Linked DNA regions of Homo sapiens: region 2 is linked to region 1. Evidence: fine-mapped expression QTL. A gene starts in region 1. The other region holds a variant in brackets. All regions are shown on one strand. Distances are from middle to middle.

What was found. PIP is the estimated chance that this variant, and not a neighbour inherited with it, causes the effect.
Region 2: its variant is fine-mapped to the expression of MCF2L in whole blood (INTERVAL, PIP 0.98).

The regions. Positions count from the first base shown.
Region 1 is chr13:112,967,479-112,970,393 of GRCh38, reverse strand. It overlaps MCF2L (MCF.2 cell line derived transforming sequence like), which reads right to left and starts at 1,180. Exons shown (of 30, transcript NM_001112732.3): 1 at 936-1,180. The coding sequence starts at 1,014. MCF2L-AS1 (MCF2L antisense RNA 1) reads left to right here and starts at 1,756. Exons shown (of 1, transcript NR_034002.1): 1 at 1,756-2,910. RefSeq lists a silencer at 1,245-1,304 and an enhancer at 1,506-2,025.
Region 2 is chr13:112,926,161-112,929,075 of GRCh38, reverse strand. It overlaps LOC124903214 (a long non-coding RNA gene), which reads left to right. Exons shown (of 2, transcript XR_007063877.1): 2 at 1-2,915. It also overlaps a transcript of MCF2L not described here. Among named protein-coding and RNA genes, the nearest start is that of MCF2L-AS1, 41 kb to the left of the region's middle. The variant A/G (reference allele first, on the strand shown) is at 1,260.

The sequences.
Region 1 (2,915 bases):
CATACGATGGTGCTTATGCTGATTTAATCACTGGTTCACTCTCAGAATCCATCGGGGTGGGCAGAGAAAGAGAACCACACCCAAACCAAGCAACTGACATTTTAATCTCCCAGGCAAGTACTAGTTAGACAACTAGTAATGGCATATATGACATAACATATGGCAACATCAGGCAAAACACTTGGCAACTTACTTTTAATGATATATCATTATTTCCTCTTCATTTCAAGGAAAACGAGTTAAGGATGCCTCTCCCTTCTGCATAACACAGCCTGAGAACTCAGATGCGACCGCCTGAAAGCCACGGCCAGATGCAAGCTGTCAGCCCAGTCTCTGCTTACACCTAAAAGAATCGATCTGAACTACTCTTCAAAGCTTATTTGAAGTAATATTTCGATTAATACTGAAAATGAACGTCCAGTCCACTCTTTACCCATACCGTCTCAAACATCTGTCTTAGGTTTAAATTGCATTTAATGAAGAAAAGAACCACCTGATTAGTCCAGGTTTTTTCATCCTCAAAACGAGCTTCCAGGTAGCTTCACCATCCCTACCCCTGGCTCTGAAACCCCAAGCTCTGAAAGCCCTTGGCTCAGATCATTCTCCATTCGCAATGCATTCTCCATTGCGAGGGCTGCGGACAGGCAGGTTGATGGGCAGACTTCAGACACACAAATGGCTCCGCATGCAGACCCAGCAACCCTGAGAGAGCCAGTGTCACCAACGTGCAGTCATTTTGACTATCCCGGGCAGCATACGATCGCCGACAGCCTCTGAAAACACACCAGCTGCCAACCAGTGCCCCCCATGTCACAGCTACCACGGCTAGAAAGGAACACGAGGGCGGCTTACAAAAATCAGACGCATTTCCCCACATTTCAGCCCATGATGTCAAGCTTAAGCACAGATCACTGACGGCCAGCAGCTCCTCCTACCCGTGTGCTTGGAAACCGCATTTAATCTCTGCACCATTTCTTCCAAGGCCATCTCTTCAGTCCTCAGCCAAAACCTCATCCTCCGACACAACAAAAATGATCCTGGCAGATCCGCTTCCTCCGCACGGGGGGCGCCTGCGGGTGGGGCCGTGCGAGTGCGGAGGGGGCGCGGCGGAGGCGGGGAGGGGGCCACGGCAGCGCTTTCAGCCTCCAGCCGCCGCCTCCCTGCCCAGGATTGGTTCCGCGCCACCGGGAGGGGGGCGCGCGCTGCGCCGCGGGGGGCGGGGGGCGGCTCGGCGGAAGCGGAAGCGGCGCGCGCCCGCCCCGGTGTGTCACCACCGCGGGTCACCTGGGAGTCCTGTGAGTGCACCGCCGGGGTCACCTGGGAGCCCCGCGTGTCACCGCCGCGGTCGTCGGGGAGCCCCGGGGCTCACCAACGAGGTCACCTGGGAGCCCCGCGGGTCACCGCCGCGGTCACCTGGAAGTGTCACCTGTGTCACTAGGTCACCTAGTGTATCACACAGGTCACCTAGAAATTCGTGTCACCGCCAAGGTCACCTAGAAATTCGTGTCACCGCCGAGGTCCCCTGGGAGCCCCGCGGGTGCCGCACAAGTGCCCCCGCCCTTCCCCCCGGTTCCGGGTCTCCACGCCCTCCTGGTTTGCGGGCAGCCGCGAAGCCGCGAGTGGACCGAGCGAGTGCAGCTGCCTCCGCGGGGCCGCGCCTGGCCGCCGCCTCCCTTTACCTCCGGCCGCCCCGTGGCAGGTGTAGAAGCTGCAGAGGCCGCAGCAGCCCAGCGCGCCCCTTCCGTGTGGCCGCATGCCACCCGCGCCGCGCCCAGGTAAGCAGGTCCGTGGGTCGCTGGGTCCATGCGTGGGTCCGTGGCTGGCCGGGGATGGACCAGCCCCTCCCCGCAGGGGCATCGCCTGCCCAAGGACGCAGGACCCAGTGAGGGAAGCGCGCGCTGCAGGCACGGGGCTCTCCACCCTCGCCATGGTTGGCACCAAGCCACACTGTGCACTCGACACACGCAGCGTCCTGGCTGCCACCTGCAGATTCCAGCTCGTGTCTATGCAGGGCCATGGCCGCCATCACAGGGCCATATGCAAGAAACTCTCTGAGCTCTCCTCGCCCAAAACCGCAGCTATCCTTTTGTGGTTTGGTATTATAGGTAACATGCCCTTCCTTAAAGAAACAGTATTTCAGGCCTGTAGTCCCAGCTACTCCGGAGGCCGAGGCAGAAGCTGAGGCAGAAGCAGGAGGATCATTTGAGCCCAGAAGTTTGAGCCTGGGCAATGTAGCAAGACCCCCCCCCCCACCTCACTCCCCAATCAGTTAAAAGAGAGAGAGAGAGAGAGAGAATTCCAGCAGGAAGAAGTACACATTTCCACGAATGGTTTGGGAATTCAAGCATCATATGGCTGAGGTTTGAACTACAGCTCATGCCAATAACATGTGCACATGCGCCAGCATTCCAGCGTCCAACAGAGCATGCGTGCACCATTCCAGCATCCGGCAACAATGCACCAGCATTCCAGCGTCCAACAGAGCATCCGTGTACCATTCCGGCATTTGGCAACAATGCACCAGCATTCCAGAGTCCAACAGGGCATGCGTGCACCATTCCAGCATCCGGCAACAATGCACCAGCATTCCAGCGTCCAACAGAGCGTGCGTGCACCATTCCAGCATCCGGCAACAATGCACCAGCATTCCAGCGTCCAAAAGAGCATCCGGCAACATCCCGGTGTCCAGTGGCACATGTGCACCTGGACGTTCCAGTGTGGTGAGCTTTCAGGCACGGAGCAAGGCCAAAGGGATAAAAAGATGAAGGTGACGCAGTACTCCCCCTTATAGTGCCTACAGGCCTTATAGGCCAGACAGATCTGGAAATAAATAATTCATAATAAAAAATAATTACAGAATAAGAGGCATAATAACCAGATAGAAAGTATTGAATAAATCTGTAAGAAATGGCTGC
Region 2 (2,915 bases), 41 kb after region 1:
ACACAGCCAGGAGGACTCTGAACCTCTGTTTGTCATCTGCACGCTGAGTAGCTCAGGTGAGAGGCACGTCCTGGCTCTAACATGCTCCAGTAAAGGCTGGCTTGTGTCTCCTGGTTCTGTGTCCACAGGTGCCAGCCACAGACAGCCCCACTGCAGATGCCACAGACTGTCAGCTGGGAGGAGGCGCAGACCTCCATCCATGTATGTGGCCAGAAAAGGCCCTCGGCCGGGAAGTCCTCTCAAGGAGGGTCTGAGGAGCACGCACATCCCTCTCCCCTGCAGGGAAGCGTCAGAGCTGCTGGAGACTGTTTTTAAAAAACATATGGTCCTTTCCCCGTGCCAAGACCACATGCGTTTTACATGTGTCTCTTAGTCCTGTGTGTGTCCCATACAACAGGCAAAGTAAAGTTTCAGAGTGCACACTCCAGCTATTCACAGACACTAGCGATGCCAATGCTCCTATAAAACAAATACTAGGAGTAGACAGTCATCATGACTTTTTTGGGGGTGAAGGGAGGAAAAAAGCACCATATTTATTTGAAAGATATGGACATAGTTCCTTTCCATTTAGATAGCATCTTTGCAAGTACAGTAACGGCTGGCATGGCTAGACAGAAATAGGCTCTGTGCACATTTCCAAGGATTATAACGAGGCACATTCACGCAGAGAATTAATTATGACTGTGAGGAAAAAAGACCACAGCAGTGCTTAGAAGACTGAGGAATCAAGCAGGTAGGGCAGTGTCTGCCATGCAACTTACATTATAAAAAGTTTTCTTTAAATCATAGAAATTTCAAACGAGTGCAAAAACATCAGAAACGGTGCAATGACTGCAACAACGTTGGTGCACGGCCGGCCGCGTTTCACCCGCATCCCCAGCAACGGCTGCCCACCACCATCAATCCAAGGCAAACCCCAGACAGCACAGAACTGTTAACACGTGCAGAGTTCAGTAAACATTCCTAAAAGGTAATGACTTTTTATACACATAAACACAATACAATCAATTCCACAGCCACAATACAATTAATAATTATTCAGAATTAAATATCTAGCCAGTGTTAACGTTTCTCCTGTTATTTTTCTCTGTGTTTTCTAGACACATTTTGTTTGAACTAGGATCAAAATCTTATCCAGTCCATAGCCTGCAATTGGCTGCTATTTCCTGAGTCTCTTTTGATAGACAGGTTTTCTTGCTGATTCTCTTTTCTTTGTATTTTTGTTGTTGTTGTTGGAGAAACCAGGTCATTTGTCATGT[A/G]GAGCTTCACATGAGGTGGGTTTTGTCGATTACGCCCCCTTGGAGGTGTTTATCATGTGCCTCTGTCCCCGGTATTTCCTATAAATTGACAGTTACATCTAGGTGCCTGGTCAGATTCTGGTTCAGCTTTTACTTTTACTTTTTTGGCAAGAGCAGTTCACCAAGGGAGGTGCTAATGTCCAACTCGCCTTCTGTGATGCCAGCAGCTTCCTGATCAGAGGCTGTGGAATTGACTGTATTGTGTTGATGTTTTATAAAGAGTCATTCATTACCTTTTAGTCTTGCACTTGCTGGTAGAACAAGATGTTGTAGGCTCGTTGGAAACATTTTTCCCCAGACCCGGTCATTTATCCAAAGACCTCCAGATCTTCTCAGTGGGAATGACATGAGGAGACCACAACTGGGCTCTCTGTGTTCAGTTTTTTCCATGGACAGGTCTAGAAACCATGTATTTTACGATAAAAGACACTGGACTTATACAGATGCTTCCAGTTCAACATCAAGACTAGAAGACTATTAAAAAATTGCAAATAACTCTATTTCTGCCAGAGTACTTTTGGGACAGATTCCTAGAAGTGGAATTGCTGGTCAAAGGGCAAACGTGTCTATGACCTCGCTAGATACTGCCAAGTTCACATGATGAGGTCATGCCATTTGCCGCAGCCATGCCACGGGAGAGTTCAGCCCTCCCCACTTCTCCAGCTAAACTTCTGATTAGCAAGAGGCAGTATGCCAGTGTGCTTTTAATTCATATTTCTCTGTAAGTGTGATTTAGCATCTTTTTTCTTTTAAATTGACAAAAACTGTATTTATAGCACACTACATGATGGTCTGAAGTATGTATGCACAGTGGAAAGGCTAAATCGAGCTAATTAGCACATGTCTTAACTCATATGCTTATTTCTTAGTGGTGGGAACACTTAAATCTACTCTTAGCAATTTCAGAAATTCATTATAGTCACCATACTGTACAATAATCCCTGACCAACATCTTCCCAGCACATCCCACCCCGCCCCCTGCCCCAGGCGACCGCCACTCTGCTCCTATGAGTTCCCCTTTCTGCGAGTACACATGTAAGTGAGAACATGCAGGATTTGTCTTTTTGTGCCTGGCTTATTTCACTTAACAGAATGTCCTTTGGGTTCATATATGTTGTCACAAATGATACGGTTTCATCCTTTTCCAAGGCTATACAGCACTCCACTGTGTGTATATAGATGAAGCCACACAGCACTCTGCTGTGCATATCGACCAGGTGGCACAGCACCCCCCTGTGCATGTAGACCAGGCCGTACAGTACTCCGCTGTGCATGTAGACCAGGCCGTGCAGCACTCCGCTGTGTATATAGACCAGGCCGTACAGTACTCCGCTGTGTATAGAAACCAGGCCGTACTGCACTCCGCTGTATATGTAGACCAGGCCGTACTGCACTCCACTGTGTATGTAGACCAGGCCGTGCAGCACTCCGTTGTGTATGTAGACCAGGCCGTACTGCACTCCGCTGTGTACGTAGACCAGGCCATGCAGCACTCCGCTGTGTATATAGACCAGGCCATAGTGCACTCCGCTGTGTATATAGATTAGGCCGTACAGTACTCCACTGTGCATATAGACCAGGCCATACTGCACTCCGCTGTGTATATAGAGCAGGCCG